Linked DNA regions of Homo sapiens. The protein of the gene in region 4 purifies or fractionates together with the protein of the main gene of each other region. This does not show direct contact. Each region holds a gene or a part of one and is shown on either strand. Other genes may lie near its edges. The genes, in order: HK3, FOSL2, UFD1, IFT56, OBI1, IFT172 and KATNIP.

Region 1 (4,141 bases), on a different chromosome or scaffold from region 4:
ATTAGCACAGGCAGTGAGCAAGATGGCCACATGTAATAGATGGACATGCTGCTGTGGTTGGGAGGTCAGGGACATGCTAGAGGCTTGGAACAAAGAGGGAACCAAAGACCTGCCAGAGAAGCAGGCAGGCTGGAAAAGGGACAGCCATTGTGCCAGGCTAAGGCACATGAATTTCATCCTGAAGGCAACAGGGGTCATGGACAGGGGTGGATCTGTGCTTCAGAAAGGGGTTCCACTAGTGACCTGACCTTGGACGTCATTTATGACTTCTTTGAATTTCAGCTTCCATCCATAAAACAGGAGGAAATAATATCTACCCTCACAAGGTTGTTGTGAGCACTAAATAGAATAACACCTGGGGAAATGCTTTATGAGATGTAGTGTGCAACATAAACATCAGGTGGGTTTTAACAGTGAAGTGATGCAGAGCAGAAAGAGCCCTGTACTCAGAGGTGGGAACCCTGCTCTCCACAAGGCAGCTGCACCCCATCTCAACCTCCAGGCTTTTCATCTGTGAAATGGGACCAACATGTATCAAAGGGTTGTGTGGGGCAAATGAGATCACGAGAGCAAAGGAACTTGCTCAGATGTGCATTCAGATTTATGTAGTTGAATCTGAACTGAAACTCTATGATTCTCCATTTCCTCTATAACATGAAAAGCTCAGTTCTTGTGAGGATTAAAGGAGTTAGTGGTCCTTTGCACACTGTAAGGAACTGTAGAAATGTCAGATACTTCGCTCATCCGAGCTGGAGGTGGTATTGCTGTTTCCATAGTCCCAAGGGAGCCCTCAGTGAGTCAGGTGCTCTTTAGGGGTGGGGGAAAAGGGAAACACAGCAGAGGGCCCAATATGGGAAGAGACATCTGTCCACTGAGTCACTTTACCTCCCTTCCTTGCAACAGCAGAACTTCTGGAAATATAGTACCTTCCCACCCCTACACTCCCCTCCTTGCCTACTCCCACTATGCTCACTAATTTGCCCTCCACGTGGTCACTGGTGACCTCCTAACTGCCCAATCCCAAGCCTTTTCCTCAGTCCCCACCTCTGCTGCCCTCTCTCAGGCATGCAAAGCCAGTAGTCATTCTCTTTGCTACAGAATTCCCCCTGTCCTTGGCTTTCACGGCCAGTCTCTCCTAGGTCTCCTTCCTGAGTCTCTCGTAGTCTTCATCAGTAATTTCTGTTCCTTCAGACAATGGGGTTCCCAAGTTTCGGTCATGCCCTCCCTCTACACTCCCTTTATCTCGCCCATTCCCAAGGTTTCATTAATAGCTGTGTCAGGGCTCCCAAATCTACCTTTGGCCTCAGCCAAATCCTAAATCCCAGTGGTCTGTTAGACATCACTATCTGGATGGTGGAGAAGCTCCTCAAATTCAACAAAGCCATACTCATTTTTCCATCACCTTACCCCCACAAAGCTCTTCTGTTCTCCACCTTGACTGGAGACATCGAAGTGTGCTCACTCACACGGCCGTTCGGGCTGCCTGCGCGCATCCCTCACCCTCACCTCCTCTATGCAATTGGATCTCAGGCTCTCTAAGAGCTCTCCTCTGCATCCCCTCCTCCCCATTCCCACACACTGCACCAGACCATCCTCCGGCCTGATTATTACAACAGCCTCCTAAACTGATAGCTCTGCTTCTAGTTTCTTCACCTCCTTACCCCACCCAACTTGATCACCTCTGCACTCATGGCCGGCACAGGGTCTGGTATAGGTATGTGCTAATGTGCCTTTCCAAAATTGGAAGCAAGGGGAGTGGGTAGTTTTTTATTTAATAAAGCAACAAATCAGCTTCTGATAAATCTCCCCAAACCATACATACCTATGCTGAGTTTCCAAATCTGTCAAATAGGGGTGTGGAATTCTTGTTCTATGCTGCAGGTCTATTTCAAGGATAAAATGAGGTAACTGGGGCAATTACCTTCGAAAAGGACTAAGGGCTACACACGTGTCTTTCTCAAGGCCCAGCTAGTTCATTTATTCATTCACTCACTCATTCATTCCCTCATCCATTCAATATTTATTCAGCATTTTTACATGACAGAATCTGTGAAGCAATCCCCAAGTAGCCCTAATATTTATATGCTAGGTAAATGTATTCAGCTCTGTCTCTTCCCACTGAGATTCCCTGTGGGGAGGGACATGTCTCCTTCACTGCAGTATCCCCAGAGCCCAGGGTCTGTTTGCCTAAGGGCCCCGTGGCTTCCCTTAGCTGAATGGGCTACACGAAGTGAGTTTTCCTCCTGAAAAGTACCCCAGGGACCTCTACTGATGTTGGGAGCTGCCATCGAGAACCAGCTGGCAGGCTGGGTGTGGTGGCTTGCACCTGTAATCCCAGCACTTTGGGAGGCTGAGGCAGACAGACTGCTTGAGCCCAGGAATGTGAGACTAGCCTGGGCAACATGGCAAAACGCCATCGCTAGAAAAAAATAACAAAAATTAGCTGGGTGTGGTGGTGTGCGCCTGTAGTCTCAGCTACTCCGGAGGCTGAGGTGGGAGGATCACTTGAACCCAGGAGGTCAAGGCTGGAGTGAGCCCTGACTGTGCCACTGTACTCCAGTCTGGGTGATAGAGAGAGAGACCCCATCTCAAAAACAAAGAAAGAGAACCAGCTGGCTTAATCTTTCCAGTGTCCACTTCCCCTGGTGTGAGCCAAACAGGAGGGATGAGGACAAGACAGCTGTGGAAGGAGCAGGCAGTAATTAGACCGAAGTGCTTACCTGGGACACAGAGAAGCTAGTCACTCTCCTCAGGTCTGAGCTCTTGTCTGGCAATATGAGGCACCCCAATGACCAAAAGCAACACTCAGGGGTGACCCGAGTTATAATATCCTCAAGCCCCACCCTTTTCCTCCACCACCACTTACCAAACATCAGCTAATTCAGGAAGCTGCACTTCCTTCCAAGCCTGCCCTAAGAGTAGCCCAGGCTAGGCAAGGCTGTGGTGAAAACTTGAGCAAGATGATTACCGCGAAGTGGAGCGTTGAACTGGGTCTAAGATTTTGGGCCATTCCCTCTACAATGCTGAGGGCTGTTTATTTTGCAAATATAGTGAGTTCTGAGGTGGTGGCTCGCCCCTAGAAGGAGCTGGAGGCGCCTAGCCTGGAAAGGTTATGGTAAGTACTTTTGAGCAAGAGGCAATGTGGGAGCACAAGCGGAAGGGACTGACTCTGCCGAGAGTGGGCAGGGCTAGCTGAAGAAGCTGAGTCTTGAAGAAAGAACAGCAGTATGCTGACAAAAGTGGTCCTTGACAAAGTGGAGAGCATGTGCACAACCACAAATCACACACACACAGCAATGAGGTGCAGCTCCAGGCGCCTGAAGAGGGTACACCAAGGTAGGAATATATAGTGGGAGAGGAGGTGACAGGCAGACTGCGGAGTCTAGCCTTTAGTCTGTAGCCTGCGCAGGGAGAGTAGGTTCACATCTTAGGTCTTCTCTACTGGAAGAAGGGGAGTGTTAGGCTGCTGTGGAGCTATTGGCGAACAAGCTGTTTTTCTGTGGGAATTTCTCCTCAAAGGCACAGAACCTTGGGGCACCAATGTAGAATACTAGACAGCCTGCAACAATCTTTGTTGAAGGCATGGATACACTTTAAAGCTTCAGGCTGCCTTGTCAGCAGTAACTCTATCCACAGATAGTAGGCCTCCACATGACATCAGGATGGAGACCAGAGATAGTGGCTCCTCTATCAGTAGTGGCATGAAGAGGCCAGGAAACATGCCAAACATCAGTCCTGCTGTGAAGTTTACTGGGTACCAACCAGGCATATAGGCTGTGAAAGGCAGGGAAGTGGGGGATGGGGTGGCAGAGGGTAGAGTGGCTGTCACAAACAACACAGCATCCTGCCTAGCCTGGGATCCCAGTCCCTTTCAACTTTGTTCAGTTGGGAGAGGAGAATGTGGAACTGACTATGAAAGGCCCAGCTGTGATTCATGCAGATAGCCTGCCATTTCTTGAGCCAGGGTGAGGATATGCCCCTGACAAGCATGGCCAGGGCTCTTCATCTGCGTTTCTGGAAGGTCTGTGTCCAGACCCCAGGAGCAGGGGTCCTGGTTCCCTAGTCAGAATGCCAGGGAAAGTCTGGGTCAAGGCCAGTGGAGGGAGAAGGATGGCTGAGCTTGAGGTCTGTGAGCAGCTGG
Region 2 (3,500 bases), on a different chromosome or scaffold from region 4:
GGCAGAATGGCAAGGCAGTAATTACAGGAGACGCCCTACTCAAGACACCAGGTGAAGGGAAGCTGGCTAGGACACCCGTGTGGCTTTGTTGGCATGCTTCCTGGCCTGGTAATTAGGCGTTTGGCAAACCCAACCTGTGCCCCACTGTCTCACTCACACCCTGTCTTCTGGCCAAGCCGTTCCTCCAGAAGCCGTCTCCGAAGGTGGGCAGGAAGGGTCCTCTGAGCCTCCCAGTGATGGCAGCATCTCCTTGAGAGCTCAGGGAGCCCCGCTGGGAGTTCTGGAGATGATGACTGGGAGGCGTCAGGGTAGGGAAGGCTCTGTATTGCACTTTGTCCCCTTCTGGACAAGTCAGCCCCAGCAGAAGAGCCACCTGCTGCCCCATCTCCAGAAATGAAGAGCTTTAATATTCAGACCACCCAGATGAAATGTCATGGCAAATTTGATAAAAACCAAGAGGGAGTGAAACTGACGCTGGGGGAGGAAAGGGTCAAGTCGAGGGAAGGTGAAACCAAAAGGCACTGAGCATGCGTGGTGGGGCAGGGAAGGACACCATCACTCCAGAGACAGTATGGTAACAAAGGGACAGGAATGGTCCAGGCCAGCTTCAGGCTCTTCAGAAGCCAGAGAGATGTCCAAGTCTACCAAACCGAGTTCTCCAAGGCTTTTCAAGAAATGGGATTTGCTTGCAAGATGAATGAGGGAGGAGGTCCCATGGCTTCTAAGAGATCAACCCAAGTCTTCCAATACTCACTGCTAAGTCCCACCTGGGTCCCCCAGAGCCAGGAAGCTCCCTGGTGGCAGGTCCCCCTCTTGCCCTCACGGCCCTGGAGCGCTTGAAGGTGCTGGTCCCTGGGAAGGAGGAGCGAGGAGGACCCCCTCCGGAGCTGGGGAGGGAGGTGCACTGGGTTACAGAGCCAGCAGAGTGGGGGAGTTCAAGGAGTCTGATGATTGGTCCCCGCTGCTACTGCTTCTGCGGTGAGCCTTGGAGCAGGATTCGGAGGGAGATGCGGGTGACTCCTGCTCCAGGACGCTAGGATAGGTGAAGACGAGGTTCGAGGTGCCCGGAGTGACAGCAGGTGTGGAGGTCACCACGATGGGGGTGTGCAGGGGCTCCTCACCGTAGAAGCCCCCAGCAATGCTGATGGGCTTGATGACAGAGCGCTGGGCCTTGTCCAGCCCCGCCGACGAGGACGAGGGGCTGTCCTCTTCCAGGGGCTCCTGTTTCACCACTACAGCGCCCACCGAGCCACCCCCACTGCGCATGGGCTGCAGCCCAGGGGCTGGGGGCGATCGGCGCTCCTCGGGGCTAATCTTGCACACTGGGCCGTGAGCCACCAACATGAACTCCAGCTTCTCCTTCTCCTTCTGCAGCTCAGCAATCTCCTTCTGCAGGCCTGACTTCTCCTCCTCCAGCTCCTCTGTCTCCTGCCACGGAAAGAGAGGGATGTGAGGGACAGCAACCTGCCAGGGACCAATCTAGGCAGGAAAGAGAAAACCAGTAATGTTCTCAGACACTGTGAGAGCAGAGGCTCACACACCTAACCACAGACCCCGCTGGTCTGAGTCTCTCAGTCACCTGGAGGCTCAAGATTCCTTTCATTTCCAAAGAAGGAAAGTCAGCTTGGAGAGGGGGTAAGACAACAACTGCAGCTGCCATAACCCAGCACCTACTTTGTGCAGGGCACAGTGTTAAGCATTTCAGAGATGATCTCATTCAATCTTCCAGGAGTTTTTTGGAAGCAGATGTTATCATCGCCCCATTTTGCAGATGAGGAAACTGAGGTTCAGAGGGGTTCTGTTAATTTTCCAAAGTCACCGAGCTAGCAGGTGGGGTAGCCCAGATTTGATTCCCAATGTATCTGACTCCAGGGTCTATGTTCTATGGCCTTGGTGCCAGGACTGCCCCCTCGGTACCCCTGAGGGGTGAGTACTGCAGAGATCTGCATGGAGAAGGGGGTACGGAACACAGCTCTACCCACCTCTCTCCTTCTCTTACTCCCCAACCCCATGCCAGCCCACCTGTGGATGGATAAACGCTAAGCCCTAGGCTGCTAGAGAGTGGAGACTTTGTCATGCACACTCCTGTATCCCTAGCACCTAGAACAGTGCCTGGCTTCTCAGAAGTGCTCAGCAAATCCCTGTGGGATTATCACAGCCTCTCCTCCTCCCTTTTTTCACTCCAATTTCTTTCTTTTTTTTTTTTTTGAGACAGAGTCTCACTCTGTCTTACCCAGGCTGGAGTGCAGTGGCATGACCTTGGCTCACTGCAGCCTCTGCCTCCCGGGTTCAAGCTATTCTCCAGTCTCAGCCTCCCGAGTAGCTGAGACTACAGGCACCTGCCACCACACCCGGCTAATTTTGTATTTTTCATAGAGATGGGGTTTCACCACATCGACCAGGCTGGTCTTGAACTTCTGACCTCAGGTGATCCACCCGCCTCAGCCTCCCAAAGTGCTGGGATTACAGGCATGAGCCACGGCGCCTGGCCTTTTGCTCCAATTTCTTAAGCACATATTTCAGGACTCCCAGAACCCTCAGAGAACATTTGGTTCAGCCACCACGCTTGACACAGAAGTAACGTGACAGCCCGAGAGGGCCTGTGAGGATGCCAGGGTCACCCCGCAAGGACCTCAGCCCCCTTCTTTCATCCCCAGCCAGAGAAGCAGAAGCGAGCAAGTGCACGTGGAGGGGCCGCTGTGGGAGGGGAAGAGGTGTGTGTCACCAGCCTCCTCCCCACGTTTTCCCTAACATGGATTCCTGTTCATCAGTGAGGACATACGGGCAAGGGCTTCGTTCAGCAGAGGACAGCATATTCCGGAGTGAAAAACAGTTTCCGTCTGTCTCAAGGGTCTGACGAACGTCATGAGCTTCTGAGAGGCTTCCTGTGGAGGATGTGGCTCAGGGGCCTGGGTGGCTGGGTCAGAGGGCGGGGGAGGTGGGGGAGGCAGGGGAGTAGGGTGTGAGGCCTCTGGGAGGAGGGAAGGAAAGTAGAGGAGCCTCAGGGGGCAGGGCTATTCCGGGGCGGGTGGTGAGGAGCGCCACATGGGGCACAGCTCCTTGAAGTGCCAATCACAGAAAGGTTAGTGGTGGGAGGGCCCGCTGAGGAAGTGGATTGTGGATCTGCCTCACCTGGGAATGAAGAATTCCCACTCATCCTCCCCGGCTCTAACACCTCCGAGGGCCATTACTACAGGCATCACAGAATTCACGCAATTCAATTCATTCAACACCCCAGAGTGAGGGCTGCAGGACAGAGAAAGACAAGCCTAAGTGGGTGGATGGTACCTGGAAACATTAACTCAAGTGAGGGGATGGGCCAGGCGTGGTGGCTCACGCCTGTAATCCCAGCACTCTGAGAGGCCAAGGCAGGCAGATCACCCGAGGTCAGGAGTTCGAGACCAGCCTAGCCAACATGGTGAAACCCTGTCTCTATTAAAAATACAAAAATTAGCCGGGCATGGTGGCAGGCACCTGTAATCCCCGCTAGTTGGGAGGCT
Region 3 (3,500 bases), on a different chromosome or scaffold from region 4:
AGTGATGTTCTAACAGGAAGTATTCTAAGGCTCAGAGTTAGCCAGTCGCAGGCCAGGCGCACTGTCCCTGGGTAGATTTTTGTGGGAAATTTGTCAGCGAGGGGAAGGATACTGGGCTGCAATTGCAAGCCTGAGGGAAGGCTGGCCAGGGATGGGGGGTGGCTTCCTCAGCCAGAGGCAGGACACTGCCATAGGTGATGTGAGGAGGACAGGCAGAGAGGTCAGACTAGGGCTTGAGGTGAGAAATGGGCTGCTGGAAGAGGCCTGAGAGCACTAAGCAGGCAGGAGGAGCTGATGCCTGGCCCTCCCCATGCAGCATTTTAGAGCATACAGCACAACGGGCAGCCGAGTACCCACATGTCACAAACGGCTAGTCCAGGGCTCGGATCTAGGTCAGCAGACGAAGCCTTGGCTACAAGGAAAAAGGCCAGTACCTATTCCAGGCTGGCTCGCCCTGAAGAAGCTTGGGAGCATGGGTGGGATGGAGTCCACCAGCCAGCCCAGAAAAAGCACTGGCTCACATGCCCTCCAAGACAGCAGATGGGGTATACCTGTCACCCGCCTGCCCATGCCAGGAGCTGGAAGGCCAGCTCAGGGGAAGAGGTGGCCTGATGGCTTCACACCCCAAACCAGCTCCAGGCTACCTAAAGAGGCTTTCCAGGGGAGAAAGGGTTCAATTAGTTTCCTGGTCTAAAGCAGTCCAACAGCTTGGACAAGAGGCCACCCAAACTTCAAGTCTATGGGTTAAAGGAGAACCTTCGAGATACAGTGTATCCCCAGCATCACCACCTCCTCTTATAGGTGAGCCACAGAAGGGACTGGGGAAGTAGTCACTGCCTGACACTTCAGCTACCTAGAGTGGCTTCAGTGACCAGGTGTTCTACCGGATGAGCACAATGTGGCCTCAGGCCCTTGGGGGCACCTGCAGACAAACACAAGAATAGCAAGGGGCTGAGCAGCAAATACTGGGGAGGGCAGGTGAGCCAATCTGGGCTTTGAGGCATAAAAGCCCCCCAACAGGCCAGGTTGGGCAGGCCTAGTCAGCTGAGGTGAGGAGGCAGCATGGGAAGGCCAGGCACTAGGAGGTGCAATGGGAGTGCAGGGCTCTTGTCGGGGAGACACTGGCCAGGCCCAGACCTTGGGAAGGACCCTGGGACCCAGGCTGAAGAGGATGCCACTACCATGGCAGCATGGGCAAGGTCACCTGCTACAGCAGGAAAGAGACCTTCAGAATTTTGATTCATATTATTGTTGTTTTTTTTTTTTGAGATGGAGTCTCGCTCTGTCGCCCAGGCTGGAATGCAATGGCATGATCTCGGCTCACTGCAACCTAAGCCTCCTGGGTTTAAGCCATTCTCTTGCCTCGGTCTCCCAAGTAGCTAGGACTACAGGCACGTGCCACCACACCCGGCTAGTCTTTGTATTTTTAGTAGAGACGGGGTTTCACCATGTTGGCCAGGCTAGTCTCGAACTCCTGACCTCAAGTGATCTGCCCACTTTGGCCTTCCGAAGTGCTGGGATTAGAGGCGTGAGCCACCGTACCTGGCCAGAATTTCAATTCATATTTAATCTCAGAAAATATTAGTTAAGGCCATCCCTTCTGAACGTCTGGCGGCCACCATGATAGGGCATCAGCAGGAGAGGTGGGCTGTGCTTCAGACCACCTCCCTGGTGGCAGCCAAGCAAGCACTCCTGAGAGTTTCCAGCCCACAGCTCACTGCGGGGTCTCTCAGTATGCCTGATGTAATCCAAGCACAAAGAGAAGGACAAGCAGGTCCCTTTGTGAACTTCCCTAATGTGCCAGAGCTGGGGAGAGGAGTGAGGAGAAGAAGGAGCCAAGTGGGCCACAGCTACCTGTGTGGAACTCTCACTGCTGCAGGCTCCTCCCTACAGCACTGGCACAGTTCTGCTCACTTCTCTGAGGGGTACAGCCTTGAGGGCAGGCTCTGGTGGCTCACACGCCCTGGATATCCCAGCCCAGATCTGCAATGACATCCTTCAAGTCAACTTTCCAAAGAGAGCCTGCTTGTAAGGAAAAAGACGTCACTCCCATGGCAGCTCAGTTGAGAGATTTGGGAGACTACGTCAGAGGTAACTGAAAACATGTATGCTGTGACAGACTACTAAAAGTAGGGGAAAAGCATAAAAACCTCAAACACCCTACTTACTAGACCACCTAAAAAATACTGTTGCTCCATTATTTTTAAAAACGCCTCACCCAGGAAATCACAGATGAACAGTTCAGCTGCGCAACTATCAAAGAAAAGGCCACTCCCACAGCACAGTGGCCCACAGGTGCGTCCAGAGCCCACCAGCCCGCATAAGGCACAGTGCACTGCTCTGGATCCCTTCTCTCTCGCTGGGTCGGCTCAGGCTAAGACGCTGAGCAGGAGGAGTAGGCGGGGCCACCTGCTCCAGGGCCAGGACTCTCGAGTGCAGGAGATGTCTCTGCCTAAGTGGCTGCTCTCTAGAGACCCTGGCAGCCCCACTCACCCAGTGTGGGAGGTAGCAGATGCCCTCATCAGCCACAAACTCCAGCACGCCACAATGCGTCATGCGGTCCGAATTCTTATTGGTCAGTTTGAACAGCATGGGATAGGTAATGTTAAGTCGGCCTGAAAATAAGAGAGAGACTATGAGGCACAGCTCCTATGAAGGGACACCTGTTCGGCCCACGCCTTCCCATAGAAGGAGCCTCCCCACAATCCTGCCCTCAACCCCACACTCCTCTGGCAGATGAATCCCCCTCTGTGAGAGCACAGTGCACGGCTCAAGGAGGAACCTGGCAACTTGGTAACACAGCACTGGCATAGACTTGTGATTTTCTGAAGTCAACATTTTAAAAAGTGATGTGTTCATTCATTTATTCATAAATAATTTCAGTGCCCACCATGCCCTGGACAAAATCCCGACCTTCAAAGGTTTCTAGTTTGAAGGTAGAAACCTTCCAACAAAGAAAACCACAACCAGATGCTGCAGGTGCTGTGGGAAGAGCTGGCAGGAGGGGGCAGAGCTACTGGGCTAGGCTCCTAGAGGCCGAGTTCTTTAGGCTGGGCACTGGGCGGGCAGACCTGGGAGGAAATCCAGGCAGAGGTGGCAGCCTGAGCAAAGGCGTGGAAGGGAAGAGGAGCCCAGGCAGTTCAGAAATGGTGGATAATTAGGCAAGACAGGCTGGGGACAGGTGTGCGAGTGGTTGGGAAGGGGAGGGGCACCACACGGGGTAGAACCTAGGGCCTGGGCCCAGCGGGCAGTGTGAGCTCTCAGCAGGGTCATGACATAGGACGCCCCCTCTCTCTGATGGACCTTGAGGTGTGGGCTGAAAGCAAGGCCAGAGGCAAGTAAGCTGGACTGGTGACGTGCTGACCCAAGAGGTGCACAGGCACATAAAGGAAGGGCTGGCAAAAAGAGGCAGGAAAACCCAGGAGACACTGGGCCCCCGGGAGAAGACCGAGAAGGAACTGATGGTAGTGATGGTGTTTGCCATGTGTAAGGCCCTTGTT
Region 4 (3,500 bases):
CAAGAAAGGAGAGAAAAAGGAACACAGACCACATGGACCAGCTGGGCAAATAGAGAACTAATAACAGGATGGCAGTTATGAAGCTAACTGTATTTGTAAATACATTAAGTAAATGGATTATATACTAGAGGTTTTTTTTTAATAAAGATTTTAACTGGATTTTAAAACCCACAAAACTCATTTATATGCTGTTTATAAGAGTCACCTTAAATTTAAGGACATAGAAAGGTAGAAAGTAAAAGGATAGATGAGAGATATAATAGGCAAATGCTACCCAAAAGAGCTAGTATAGCTCACAAATATGACAAAGAGAAATTTTTCAGAGATGAGAGATATTTCATGATAATATATGTTTCAGTCTACTAGGAAGACATTATTGCTAGGCAGTCTACTAGCAATTCTAAGTTTGTGTGCACTTAATGACAGAGTCTGAAAAACATGTAAAGCAGAACTAAAAAGAGAAAGAGACAAAGTGACAATTATGATGTGGAATTTCTAAATGTACCAGAAATAATTATTTTCATATAATGCCTGTGGATGATTAAACTTTCTGTAAAACAACTTAGCAATATCAATTAAAAGCTTTAAAGTTGCTCATACCCAGTAGGTATGTCCATTTCTAGGATGTTCAGAATGACATTTTTATAAATTTTTAAAATTATAAATAATCTGAAGTCAAATAACTAAGAAACACTGAATAAATAATGGCACATATGATGCATTTGGTGGAATGCTATAAAACAATTTTTTAAATAAATTAAACAATTATTTAAAATTTTAAATTTGAAAAATTATTTAAAAAATAATTTTATCATTATCAAAATTATTACCATACAGCAATTCTGAAAAGTGTATATTTATTTCTAGGAGTCAGGACAAGGTGACTCTGAGTCTGTTTCCTAACAGATAATAGTATAGTTGACACAAACTAAACTTCTTTTTTTTTGAGACACAGTCTCGTGCTGTCGCCCAGGCTGGAGTGCAGTGGCACGATCTCGGCTCACTGCAACCCCCGCCTCCTGGGTTCAAGTGATTCTCCTCCCTCAGCCTCCTCAGTAGCTGGGATTAAAGGGGTGTGCCACCAAGCCCAGCTAATTTTTTTTGTATTTTAGTAGACACATGGTTTCACCATGTTGGCCAAGCTGGTCTCCAACTCCTGACTTCAGATGATCCGCCCGCTTCAGCCTCCCAAAGTGCTGGGATTACAGGCGTGAGCTATCATGCCAGTCTAAACTTCTTATATGACTGTTGCTTAAGGAGAAATAAAACCTAACATCTCTGAATAAATGCAGTAGGTAAAGAACATTGATAGAGGAGAAAATCCTATACAATTAACAGTTATATTCCACTTGTTCTAGAAAACCATTAACAAGAATTTCTAATTAAATATCTCTCACTAGTGTTAGTAACAAGAAGGAAGAAAAATAAAAATATTTTTAAAACAAAAAAATGTGAAATGAGAACATAAATACCTTGTGAGCCAAGTGGAAGAGGAGGCGGTTTTGGAGTCGGCTTTTTGAAGCTGAAAAAAAAATCCAAGCTGCTTATTAAAGAACTCAACAGTCTAGCAGTCCCTTGTAGGAATGAAATGAGACTCGGATGAATCTTCCCAAACCTTACTCATCTGATCCTAATATGTCTCTGCTAGAATACATATTGTTTGAGTCTGGTGTCCACCTGCAGTAGCAGAAACAGCATCAAGAACTAGAAGAGAAAGGTGCTAAGATTCTGTTCTTCTCCACTGCTTGTTCTACCTGATCCTATTATGGTGATCCACCATGCAACACTCCACACACATGGTTGTAGTAGCAGCCCACCTCTGTGTTGTTCATATACCAAACCAAACAGTGGTAAGAGACACCCATGGTCATCTCAATGTGTGTATGAATCTGCTCTCATTCACCTCTTAGTCCCAGTATTCTTTGTTAATTCCTTCTGATATCTCCTTTTCCACAATTATACTGCCATATTTTCCTAAATACTAGCCCAGCCTCTATTCCACAGATTTTCTAGCATAATTATGTGCCATCCTGAAACAGGCAGTCCAGCAAAAATGTTAACAGCTTTTAAGTTCCAAATCTCCTTTGCACTCTTGGAAAACTTTCTGATTCTGGATACCCAATTCTATCTCTTTTACAGAAAAAGTCATACTTCAATGTATAAGAAAAAAAATATGGAAATAGAGATAGCTACCACAATCACCTTATATGTGTCTAACACTGTTCTTAGCACAGATAAAGCCTACAAATATGAGATAAAGTAAGTAACATAAAGGACCTTATAACTAAATTAGGAAAAACTACATTAGTACCTATGAAATAATTTGGGTACAAATCAAGAAAGGCTTTGCTGGGCATGGTGGTGGGCGTGGCTGTAGCCTCAGCTACTCAGGAGGCTGGGGCTGGAGGATGGCTTGAACCCAGGAGTTTGAAGCTATAGCATACGATGCTCACACCTATGAATAGCCACTGTACTCCAGCTTGGACAACACAGTGAGACCCTGTCTTTTTTTTTTTTTTTTCAGAGTCTTGTTCTGTCGCCCAGGTTGGAGTGCAGTGGCGCAATCTCGGCTCACTGCAAGCTCCGCCTCCCGCGTTCACACCATTCTCCTGCCTCAGCCTCCCGAGTAGCTGGGACTACAGGCGCCCGCCACCACGCCTGGCTAATTTTTTTGTATTTTTAGTAGAGACGGGGTTTCACCATGTTAGCCAGGATGGTCTCGATCTCCTGACCTCGTGATCCGCCCACCTCGGCCTCCCAAAGTGCTGGGATTACAGGCATGAGCCACTGCACCCGGCTGACCCTGTCTTTTAAAAAAAAAAAAAAGTCTTCAAGTTCCATGTTTGCCATGAATTTGGGCTGAAATTCTTTATATGTATAAATTAATTTTACCTCAAATACATTCTTCCCTATCAAACATTACAGTGCCCACTTTCTCTGCATTTCCTTGAACTTAATTTGGTTCATACTTTAATTAACTTTTTTTTTTTTTTTTTTTTTTTGAGGTGGAGTTTCACTCTTGTTGCCCAGGCTGGAGTGCAATGGCGCGATCTGGGCTCACTGCAACCTCCGCCTCCCGGGTTCAAGTGATTCTCCTGCCTCAGCCTCCCAAGTAGCTGGGATTACAGGCATGCACCACCTTCTGTATTTTTGTATTTTTAGTAGAGATGGGGTTTCTCCATGTTGGTCAGGCAGGTCTCGAACTCCTGACCTCAGGTGATCTGCCCACCTTGGCCTCCCAAAGTGCTGGGATTACAGGCGTGAGCCACCGCACCCAGCCATCTTTAACTTTTTCTACCATGTTTCCCTTTTATTCTTAAATTTGAGTACAATCGCCCTGAGATGAATATCATATGTAAGAAAGCAGAAGGGATGATTTCTGGATTCTTCAAACTGAAATTGCTGGGTTTCTCACTTAGAAACAGGAAAAGCAGCGATAAAGTCCACAGCCATAAGAGCCTGAATAAAACTATACCTAAATACCACCAACAGCATGCCCA
Region 5 (3,500 bases), on a different chromosome or scaffold from region 4:
GATCGCGCCACTGCACTCCAGCCTAGGCGACAAGATTGAGACTCCGTCTCAAAAAAAAAAAAAAGTAGTTTTTCCTGGTCTTTATAGGCTAATTCAATATACGAGACAAAGAATCATCATCGACATCAAGGAACACAGTGCTTATGACATTCTTTATTCAATTCACATAGAAAAGCATGCAGTATTAATGTAAAACAGTACAATATTAATGTAAAATGTTCAGTGCACATTAAACAGCATACATACCCATTTTTAAAGACCTATATAGGCATACCAAATACGTTTAGAACAATACACTTTTTCAGAGCCTAAATTAAAAATTGTGCTTACCTCTTACCTATCTTCACCCCCTCAACACTCTTCACAGAAAAGTTTTGTCCTACATAAAAGATATTCTATCAGCCAACTGAAACCTCTTTTTCTTAAGTATGGAAAACACAGCAAGCAAAAATGCTACCATGCATAGTTTCCACAAAGAACAGGAACATGCAAACAAGAAACATACTACTCAAAAGAAAACTCCCCTGGAATGCAAGTGGATCAAGAACTTGGCGATGAGCTCTTTCAAACCTGTTACATCTGGAACAATGAAGCTATGATGTTTTAGGTTCCTCTAAACCCAAGTGCTCCATGCCTTCTTTCCATAGTATGCTAAATTTCTGATTTTACACACATACACACACACGCAGAGGAGAAAATGTAAGCTACCTAACATAAAACAAATGTCTTCATATAGAAAATGTTTTCTTTCATACTAGCAGAACATTTTCACAAAACTGGACAAAACACAATGCTAAAAAATGCAAACATATACATAAAACCTAAAAAAAGAAAGTAAATCAATATTGGACTAAGGCTAGAGTGCTATTTCTCCATCATGGCCCTGCAGAAAAACTAGGCCATCACTAAACATAAATAAAAAGGGACAGGTAAAATAATTTCCACCCTGGGAAAAGCTTAAACTCAAGTGTCTTATTGAGCAGTGTATAGACAACACTAAAAGTTTTATTTAAGAAATCCAAGTTCTGAAGACAAGTGGGGCTTATCAACAGGCCACTGTATCTAACAGTTAAATAACATTTTTTAAAAAAACAATGTATATCCAACCGAGATACATATCAAATTCAGTAAAAAAACAAAACCAAAAACAAAACCAACCAACCAACCAACCCCAAAACACAAAAATAACCTCCTCCCTAACTTCTCTGGTCACAAAGACTCCCAAATAAAAATGAAAAGAACAAAGTCTTTTCAAAATGAACAATAAGTATTCTGGGTACAGGTTAATCCACCATCCTGACTTGATACTTGACTAAAGATTATCAATTCCAATTTGTATAGAACTTTTATGAGGAAAAAAGGTAACTTTAACAACTTTTCTATTTCTCTCAGGACAAAACCACAAATGACACCTTTCTAATGAGTCAACTTTTAGTTGCTTTTGATGGGCTGGCACTGGAAAGGCTGCTCTGGATTTTTCTTTTTGTTGATTGATTCACATTTTTATTCCTCTTTTCAGGCACAAAGGAAGTAGACCAAGGAGACTGAAGGTGGTTATGAAGACTGTGCATCTCTGAGGACATCTTAAACAAAGATGACCCAAATCTTTGATCTTCAAATAGTCGATGTGAACTGCTTAACAAAATGCCCTGGGAAAACTCTGTCTGAAACAAGCAGCTTGGGGGTTTGATTTCATTAGTTACTGGACAAGAACTGGAATGGAGTGAAAAATCTTCATTCATTTCTTGGTCAGATGGAGAGAGGAGAAAAAAAGAAGTGGGTTTCCATTCACTTCCATTTTCTAACTGATCATTAGTTAGAGAACCTTTGGAAAGGTTTAGCTCAGTTTTTTCTTCCAACTTATCAGGTTCCTCAAGAAATTCACTGCCTTGAGATGACTTTGATAACCCATCCAAATCCAGTGACTTAAAACCGTTATTACAAGGGCTCTTGCTGTTGTCTGACTCTGACATCATTGAATCCAACTCAGAGATTTTGTCAAGGTAAGCAGCATCCATCGATGCTTCACTGGATGTTCTTGTCCGGTTCATTTCAAAAGAGCGAATAGAATTCAACCTTTTGGATAAACATAAGCCTGATTTCTCACTCAATTTTGAAGATATTTCTCCAACAGAATTTGCTATCGTGTTCCCCTCTGAACTTTCAAAATCTAAGTTTTGGGCATAGCTTGTGGAACAACAGTCCCAAAATCCTGTCTTTGGGGAAGAAAAACATTCTGATTTCTTTTCATTTTCACTTCTACTTATATCATCTTCTGAAGAATCTTTATTAGAAACATTTGAAGAATCACAAAAATCATCAAACACCAATTTTCTGAGATGGTTTGAGTGCTTTTTGGAACCTCCTGCTTGGACCACAGAGCTCTCTCTATTTTCTGGAGTACTGAGCTGAAGGCAACTAAGGGACAAAGGAGTACAAGGAGCTGGAAGATCATAAAGTTCTTCATCTTTGTAGGGTACACAGTCACTTGGTTTATTCCCCCATTCTCTTTCCAAATAAGTATCCATACTTGTATCTGTCACATCTAACATTACTTCTACCTGTTCTTGATATAGGTCTTTGTTCTTAGAACAGTTAAGGTCTGCTTTGCTGGTACTTTCCTGCCTTGCAGAACTGGTGTCACACAGTCTGCTGCTGGAAGGCTTCGCTAGGTGAGAAGAACTGGAGGTGGATGAGCCAGGCTGCTTTCTGGCACTATCGCCTTGATTCTTTGACACCACATCCTCCTCACTGCCTTTGCTCCCTTTGCCATCTGCAGAAAGTGCTGTCTGGCAAATGGAATTCATAGCTTCTTTCTCTTCACTTGAATTTTTTAGCTGTGCAACTTGAGATTCTAGTTCCTCTATATACTTATCACTTCGTTCCAGGGCTTTCTTGAGGCGATTGGTTTCACGCTCATACTGTTCTACTTTGGACTGAAGAGCAGCAACTGCAAACCTTCCAAACCTACAAAGAATGGAAAGATAGTTAATCTTATAACTCAAGCTTTTTTCTTTTCAAGGTTTGAGAGTGCAAACTGTCCCAGGCTATTCTAATTTCACCTAACAGTGACATTTCAGACCACTCAATGAGTAGGGCAAATGCCAGATGTATATTTTCAAAAAATGGTTTCCCCACTTACATAATAATAAACATATGATAATAATAGCAAAACCTAATAGGATATTTTTGTGGTTAAATCAGATCTATGGTAGCAGAGAGGCAGAAATGTGCTGATGATTTCCCCTCGAAGAGCTGGCTGTATCAATTCAGCTCATATATGCATGAAGAGTTATCCCCTAAAACAATGGCAAAGATTTATGATAACATTTGAACAGTGGTCTACATCTTGAAATATTTACATTCAATCATTTTCCTATCATACAGCAGTGTTTTACAATACATTTCTTATATAATGTCACCTTGTCAAACATAAAATGCCAATTTGAAATTCAGAAATCTTAGCAGTCCCAGGAGGGGTGGTTTTAAATACTTATTTG
Region 6 (3,500 bases), on a different chromosome or scaffold from region 4:
CGACAGAGCAAGACTCCGTCTCAAAAAACAAACAAACAAAATAAACAAACAAACAAAAAAACCTCAAAACCTAAGGGAAATTTTGCAGGGGCATCACCATACGAATATGTCATTTAGAGGGCCAATCTCACCCCCCTCATGACCCCCACTCACATTTCACTGTATCTAAGGTGCGTCATTTAAACTATACCTGCATCCCAATTTTAAATATATTAAAATATAATTATATATATGTATGTGTGTGTGTATATATATATATATATATGTTATTGTTAACTTTATGTATCAATTTGGGCTACAGGGTATCCGGGTATTTGGTCAAACATTATTCTGGGTGTTTCTATAAGTGTTTTTGGATGAGGTTAACATTTAAATTGGTAGACTGAGTAAAGCAAATTGCCCTCTCTACTGTGGATAGACCTCATCCAATCATTTCAAGGCATGAACAGAACATAAAGGCTGGCTCCTTCCCAAGTTAGAGAGAATTCTTCCTGTTTGACTGCCTTTAAACTGGGACACTGGCTTTTTCCTGCCTTCAGATTTGAACTGAAACATCAGCTCTTCTTGGGTCTCAAGCTTGCTGGCCTTCAAACAAGAACTACACCATCAGTTCTCCTGGGTTTTCAGTTTGCCAGCTCACCTGCAGATCTTGGGCCTTGTCTATCTCCATAACTGCATGAGCCAATTCCTTTTAATAAATCTCTTTATATACATGTACACACATATACCTACAGTCATGCATTGTCTAATGATCAGTATGTTCTGAGAAATGTGTCCTTAGGGGATTTCATCATTATGTAAGCATCATAGCACAAACCTAGATGGTATAGTCTACTATACACCTAGGTAGAGGTTGCGTAGAGCTTATTGCTCCTAGGCCACAAACCTGTACAGCACATTTCTGTACTGACTACCTATAGGCAACCATAACACAATGGTAAGCATTTGTGTATTGAAACCTATTTAAGGCCAGGCGTGGGATCACCTCAAGGGATCCACCCACCTCAGCTTCCCAAAGTGCTAGAATTATAGGCGTGAGCCACCATGCCCACCCATGTGGTCTACTGTTGACCAAAACGTTGTTATATGGCATATGACTGTATATATCCTGTTGGTTTCTCCAATACAGTATGTCTTATTATTTGTGACACATACTGGCCTGGCTTAATTTGCTGGAAGCTTCTTTTCAGGAAATGTTGGGTGGGGGAGGTGGAGCCCATGCTTTTTTCATGTTCCCTGTCTGGCCAGTTCCTGTGCCTGGAGTTGCCCTTCCAGCTCCTGTCCAAGTCTTCCCTCCTTCTTCACAGAGCCTTCCTGACCCCTCTAGCCCACAGAGATCTCACTGTTCTCTGAACTCTACTTTAAATCATGCACTTTAGTCTTTACTCAGATATGATAGTAATTGAGCCATTTATTGGTCTAATTCCCCTAACTTTTGGCTGTCAGGGCTCTGTCTTATATCCACTTTTATAGCCTTCAGAGGTTCTGGCTCTATCATCCAGCAGGCACTCCATAGATTCCTGCTACCTGATTGAAAAGAAAAAGACACAAGAGGAAAGAGCTGAAGATGTGAGAAGCAGAGCCAAGTGTGAATAGAGGCCTAGGGAGAAGGAGGGCCAGAAAGGGCCTGCTGTCCTCACCTTCATCCAGCACTTCTCCGCCAGGCCGCTGTTTCCAGAGTCTCGCACTTTGAGGTAGCAGTCCACGGCACGGCTGTACTCTCCAGCCTGCTCCCAGTGTCGAGCTTGTTCCACAAATCCCTCCACACCCCTGTGGAGATGAGAGCGCTGGGACTTGGCATGGTAGGGGGGCAGCATGCTCTATCCTGTGTATGCCTCATGACCCTCCCAGCCCTGCCAATGCTGCCTGGACCTCTGGCCTCATACCTGGCCCCCTTCTTAGTAGCTTCCCGCTCATATTCTTCCTGCAGAGCCTCCAGCTGGCTGGGCACATAGTCCTTGCAGATGCGCAGAGCGTCACTCCATAATCCAGCCTCCTGCTCAGATTTCCAGGTATCAAGAGGGCAGAGGCAGGCCTGACAGCTTCCCACTGCCACACAGGTACTCTGGCCCACAGACTCCTGGGTCCTTGGACCTCTCTTCTCCTCCTCTTTCCTGTCTTCCCCACTCCCCAATACTAACCTCCCTGATCTTTCTTCATACCAGGGGTCAGTGTGGCTCTCTGTGGGCTCTTACAAACTCTCCCCCTCCCCTCATGGCCCTGCATCCAGTGCCCCACCTTATAATAATTGAGGGCCAGGCCTGGTCTCTGGGCCCGGAGCAGCAGCCCTTCTGCTTTCTGAAAGTCCTTCTCCTCCAAGGCCCCCCGGGCCTGTCCCACAAGCACCTCGGCGACACTGTCAGGGTCGTGAGCCTCAGCCACACGCTGAGCTGCCTCCCAATCCTGGTTATGGACAAACCTGCCTCCAGGTGGGGACAGAGGAGAGACTGAGTATAGGACTGAGGCCCCAATAGTGGGAGACAAACAGCCATGTCACTGAGGGGTGTAACACTGATTTGTTCTAGGTTTGAATGAAGGTCAAGATAATCATGAAAGATCCTGGGACGGTGACTGGGGAAACAGTATTAAGGAATGTATGGGGTAACTCACATGAGGACTGCCTCCTTGGGTTTACCAGCTCTGATGAATTCAGCTTCAGCCTCTTCGAATTTACCCTACAGGGAGAGAAAGGCAGCCGTGCATGATGAGAAGGAGACTGGCATCACAGGCAGGCATGAGACTGGGGGTCTGCACACCCAGCAGCAGTGCACTAGGGGATGGAATAAGAGGGCTCTGCGGTCGGGGTCCAAATCACACCCATACCTCATCCTCCAGGAACATAGCATATTTGAGATGAACCTCGGGGGTTTTGTGCTTGAGGGCCAGCCGAGAGAGTTCAAACGCAAATTCAAAGGAGCTGAAACAGAAAGTGCAGATAAAGTTTTCTTGCTTCATGCTTCCCTTCATAAAAGGAACAAGACAAAACAGAGAAAGGACAGAGTTGAGGGGAGAAAAAGTGACAGATTTAAGGATAACAAATATGAAGTGACAGAAAAGCGTGGAGAGATAAAAAGGAAGACGGGCAGGCAGCCCTGTGAAGACCATGTCACTGTCAGCGTGGATCAAGAGACGTCTGGAAAAGCCTATGCCTTCCCTGAGGCCAGCTGCTCCTGAGGAATTAGTTTGGGCCTGCGAAGGGGAAGGGAGGAGTGAGCCTCGCAGCCCTACACTGACAGGGCTAGGAGGGCTCCTGGTGCTCTCCATCTCTTCCTGAGCCCCAGCTACATTAGCAGAAACAGAGTCTCTCCAAAAAATGAGCAAGACCACCCTCAGCATCGGACTCCATGATTGGCACTGATAACAGTAGCTTGAGAACACTTTGCTCTTTTGGCTATCTTTCTGCACCGCCGCAATAGTGCGCATGAATGTCCTGGCTGATGTGCTCAAGAGCATCAACAATGCCAGAAAGAGAGGCAAACGGCAGGTCCTTATTAGGCTGT
Region 7 (3,500 bases), on a different chromosome or scaffold from region 4:
CTGGGGAGGAGATGCGGTCGCAGAAGGGCCATAAGGGAGGGGATGTGGAGCTCACTTAGGGCACTGCTCAGACCCCACCTCCCACCCCCAGGAACAGAAGGACTTAGTCCTCTGGTGGCGGGAAGTGCTGACGGCTGGCAGCTCACCACTGAGGCTCTTGACTTGTGACTGCCCTTGGCTGAAGAGAGTCTCCTTGCAAAAAGCCATGTCCGGCTGGGCACAGTGGCTCATGCCTGTAATCTCAGCACTTTGGGAGGCCAAGGTGTGTGGATCACCTGAGGTCAGGAGTTCGAGACCAGCCTGACCAACATGGTGAAACCCTGTCTCTATTAAAATTACAAAAATTAGCCGGGCGTGGTGGTGGGCACCAGTAATCCCAGCTACTTGGGAGGCTGAGGCAGGAGCTCTCTTGAACCTGGGAGGCGGAGGTTGCAGTGAGCTGAGATCATGCCACTGCATTCCAGCCTGAGCGACAGAGTAAAACTGTGTCAAAATAAATAAATACAAATTAAAAAGTAAAATAAAAAGCCATGCCCCTCCCCAGGGGCAGCCCATAGCCAGTGCCATGTTGATACAGATAAAGACATGGCCCCTCACTCAACTCAGGATGACCCCAAAGGGCCATCCCAGGTTCCGAGCTCCCTGTGGAGCAGGCTGAGGCCTTGAAGTGGCTGAACCGCAGACCAGCTTCTCCCTCTGCCCAATCCTGCCTCCTACCCTTCCCTGACAAGAGCACACCCCAGGAAACTCCATCTCAGGGTCTGTGTCTAGGGAACCTAGCCAGCGACAGGTGGTCGTCAGAAGGCAGAGATGGAGCAGGGAGGCATCCTAGGTGGAAGGTGTGGCTTGCACAGGTGCCTGCAGGTGGACTCCAGAGATGGCATGGGGAGGTCCCGGAAGGGCTGACACCAGGATTCGGAGAGGCTCCAGCTTCATTTTGGAGATGAGGATGGGGAGGTGGGGAGGGGATCCTGACAGTGTCACATCTTTTGTCTCAGAAGATAAAGTAGAAGCGGGTCACATTCACAGGGGGCAGGAGAGAGCAGGAAGTGAGGCTGCCAGGAACCTGGTTAGCAGGGTGCAGGAGGGAGGAGATCACAATCAGCAGTGACCTTGGGCTTGAAGATTCCCCAGGACGGGGAGGGGCTGATGTGGACACGCATGGATGAAGAGAGGAACTGGCTGGAAGGATCAATGGAAAAGAAGGGTGAGGAACAGGCCCAGCAGAAAACCCCTGGGATTTGCTCAGAAGTCACAAACTGGCAGCCAGCTGGCCAGATACACAATAAGTGTTTTATTTGGCTCATGTGATATTTTAAAACATGAGAAAATTCGTTACACACATTTGAGAATCTGGAGACTTCACGTAAGACTCTAGATTTCCGACTTCTTCTGAAAAGTCAGAAGACCTGGTACCCTGGGCCTGTGCACCTGCCCCCACCCCCGGGGCAGAGTGGATGCAGGTTTTCTCTGCCTGTGCATCTACTCTTTGGTGGAGTTGGAAGAGACAGCTCGGGGCACTGCACCAACAGATGCCTTGGGTCTCTTCAGGCTCTAATGTCCTCTTGTTCTACACTTTCTGGGTGCCAACTACACCTCCTGGGTCAGGGTCATGGTCACAGCTAACACATAGGGTGTCTGCATGCAAAAATGCCCCTCAGGGAAGGCAAAATGCTAAGAGATGCCCCTCCTCTGGAGTGAGGTGGCCCTGCTAGGGCCAGGGAGCTGAGCGCAGGCTGGTTTCAGCCTCCACTTGCCCCATGGCCTGGTGTCTCTGTACAGTGTCCAACCCACCCGATTGTCCAGCGAAACCCTGTCCCAAGTGGCCACAACTCCCCCTGTCCCTGGAAGGTCCTCCTTCCACCCAACACTGCTCCAGGAGAGCTACTCACAGATTCCGTGGTAGATGCCTGGCTCTGGCGTGGTGACTTGGGGGACAGGGGAACTGGATGGGAGCTCTAGCTCCGGGATCTGCACATGGGTTGGAGAAGCAGAGGAAAAGGGGGTGGTTTTAGTGATACCCACACAGCTAGCTGGCTGGCTGTTTCTGCATTTACCACTGCCCACCCTATGCCCAGGTAAGTCCTTGTGTGTTTTCCTGGATTTTTCTGCCTTTGTGGAAGCTATGGGACCAGTGATATGGGCGGACCCTGACCCTCCAGGGTCTGCATCCTTGTCAGCAGCTCTCACTGGCTGGGGAGGAGCCTGATGCTAACAGCTAAGGTGTTTAAATTTCCTCCAACAGGGAAGGACTCAATAAATGCTTATGTGGTGAGCTAGAGGAAGAAAGAAAGGAAGGAAGGAAAGGAGGAGGAAGGGAAGAAGAGAAGGAAGGGAGAGAGGAAGGAAGGAAGGAAGGAGGAAAGGAAGGAGGGAAGGAGGAAAAGAAGGAAGGAGGGAGGGAGGGAGGGAAGGAAGGAAGGAAGGAAGGGGAAGTGGAAGAATTCAAACCATAGAGAGTGGCTCTTAACTTTGGCTGTTCACTGAAGCAGAATCTCTAGGGGTGGGGCCCAGACATTTTTAAAGATCCACCCAAGTGATTTCCACGGGTAGCCAGGATAAAAAATCCTGGTCTTCAGAGAGTCAACGGTGGGCCACCACACCCTTCTTGGGCCTTACATATAAACTATTTGCTCATTGTCTCTTTGCACCATAAGTGAAGGCGCTGGTCTCTCACGAGACTGAGAGAGTGATCCCCCCAGCCCCTCACAGCGCTGGGCCCATCAGAGTCCCTTACGAGCACCTTTGTCATTTGGAAAACGCTGGGCAAATGGAAGCGCCCAGGGTAGACTCCCACCTGGAGACCCCTGGGTCGAATCAGGAGCACAGGCACGGCTTGTGGCCCAAAAAAGGTTTGAACACATCTGAATTCACTGCCAGCATTTTTAAATGGAGAGGTTTTACAGAAAAATCCAGCTTTCTGGCTTCTCTTGTAAAAATCAGGAGAACTGGCAACAATGGGCTTGCCCCTCTTGGTGGCCGCTTTCCTTAGATGTGGGGAGGGGGAGGGGCACGCACTCCCCAGCTGCCTGTGCCTCCCCATGCCCTGCTCCTGCACCCCATGCTCTGCCTGGCTGCGAGGTACAATCCCCAGGGAACACCATGGGGTCCACACGACATGTTGCTGTCCTGCCTCAGTCATGACCTTCCCACAGCCCAGCCCCATCCCTTGTGGCTTGTGTTGTCCCCATTTCTCCCCTACCCTGTTTAACCATCTCCTCTTTTTCCTATTGGTCCTGACTTGAATTGACCTTGAAGGTCATCTTTCATTTTAAAAGATTTGTTTATCTGGCTAAGTGTGGCGGCTCTTGCCTGTAATCCCAGCACTTTGGGAGGCCAAGGTGGGAGAAGCGCTTGAGTCCAGGAGTTCATGACCAACCTGGGCAACATAGCAAGACCACATCTCTACAAAAAATAAAAAAAAAACTAGCCAGGCATGGTGGCATGCACTGTAGTCTCAGCTACTCAGGAGGCTGAGGTGGTAGGATTGCTTGAGCCCC

What was found.
Region 1: the proteins of IFT56 (region 4) and HK3 purify together in Homo sapiens (affinity purification with mass spectrometry; 2 studies listed by BioGRID and IntAct, with this or other methods). This does not show direct contact.
Region 2: the proteins of IFT56 (region 4) and FOSL2 purify together in Homo sapiens (co-immunoprecipitation; one large-scale study listed by IntAct). This does not show direct contact.
Region 3: the proteins of IFT56 (region 4) and UFD1 purify together in Homo sapiens (affinity purification with mass spectrometry, with the first as the bait; one study listed by BioGRID). This does not show direct contact.
Region 5: the proteins of IFT56 (region 4) and OBI1 purify together in Homo sapiens (affinity purification with mass spectrometry; one large-scale study listed by BioGRID and IntAct). This does not show direct contact.
Region 6: the proteins of IFT56 (region 4) and IFT172 purify together in Homo sapiens (affinity purification with mass spectrometry; one large-scale study listed by BioGRID and IntAct). This does not show direct contact.
Region 7: the proteins of IFT56 (region 4) and KATNIP purify together in Homo sapiens (tandem affinity purification; one large-scale study listed by IntAct). This does not show direct contact.

Annotation. Positions count from the first base shown.
Region 1 is NC_000005.10:176,896,547-176,900,687, forward strand, and holds the start of HK3 (hexokinase-3), read right to left. Parts: upstream 2,801-4,141; 5' UTR 2,721-2,800; intron 1-2,720. UniProt on the Homo sapiens protein: Catalyzes the phosphorylation of hexose, such as D-glucose and D-fructose, to hexose 6-phosphate (D-glucose 6-phosphate and D-fructose 6-phosphate, respectively).
Region 2 is NC_000002.12:28,409,858-28,413,357, reverse strand, and holds part of FOSL2 (fos-related antigen 2), read right to left. Parts: intron 2,886-3,500; coding exon of another isoform or gene 2,783-2,885; intron 1,480-2,782; coding exon of another isoform or gene 1,429-1,479; coding exon 910-1,428; 3' UTR 1-909.
Region 3 is NC_000022.11:19,469,194-19,472,693, forward strand, and holds part of UFD1 (ubiquitin recognition factor in ER-associated degradation protein 1), read right to left. Parts: intron 2,616-3,500; coding exon 2,494-2,615; intron 1-2,493. UniProt on the Homo sapiens protein: Essential component of the ubiquitin-dependent proteolytic pathway which degrades ubiquitin fusion proteins.
Region 4 is NC_000007.14:139,140,278-139,143,777, reverse strand, and holds part of IFT56 (intraflagellar transport protein 56), read right to left. Parts: intron 1,523-3,500; coding exon 1,473-1,522; intron 1-1,472. UniProt on the Homo sapiens protein: Component of the intraflagellar transport (IFT) complex B required for transport of proteins in the motile cilium.
Region 5 is NC_000013.11:78,614,156-78,617,655, forward strand, and holds the end of OBI1 (ORC ubiquitin ligase 1), read right to left. Parts: intron 3,171-3,500; exon of another isoform or gene 2,968-3,170; coding exon 1,425-2,967; 3' UTR 134-1,424; downstream 1-133. UniProt on the Homo sapiens protein: E3 ubiquitin ligase essential for DNA replication origin activation during S phase.
Region 6 is NC_000002.12:27,451,744-27,455,243, forward strand, and holds part of IFT172 (intraflagellar transport protein 172 homolog), read right to left. Parts: intron 2,918-3,500; coding exon 2,824-2,917; intron 2,676-2,823; coding exon 2,611-2,675; intron 2,420-2,610; coding exon 2,239-2,419; intron 1,997-2,238; coding exon 1,887-1,996; intron 1,771-1,886; coding exon 1,641-1,770; intron 1,528-1,640; coding exon of another isoform or gene 1,495-1,527; exon of another isoform or gene 1,394-1,494; intron 1-1,393. UniProt on the Homo sapiens protein: Required for the maintenance and formation of cilia. Plays an indirect role in hedgehog (Hh) signaling, cilia being required for all activity of the hedgehog pathway.
Region 7 is NC_000016.10:27,752,644-27,756,143, reverse strand, and holds part of KATNIP (katanin-interacting protein), read right to left. Parts: intron 1,972-3,500; coding exon 1,893-1,971; intron 1-1,892. UniProt on the Homo sapiens protein: May influence the stability of microtubules (MT), possibly through interaction with the MT-severing katanin complex.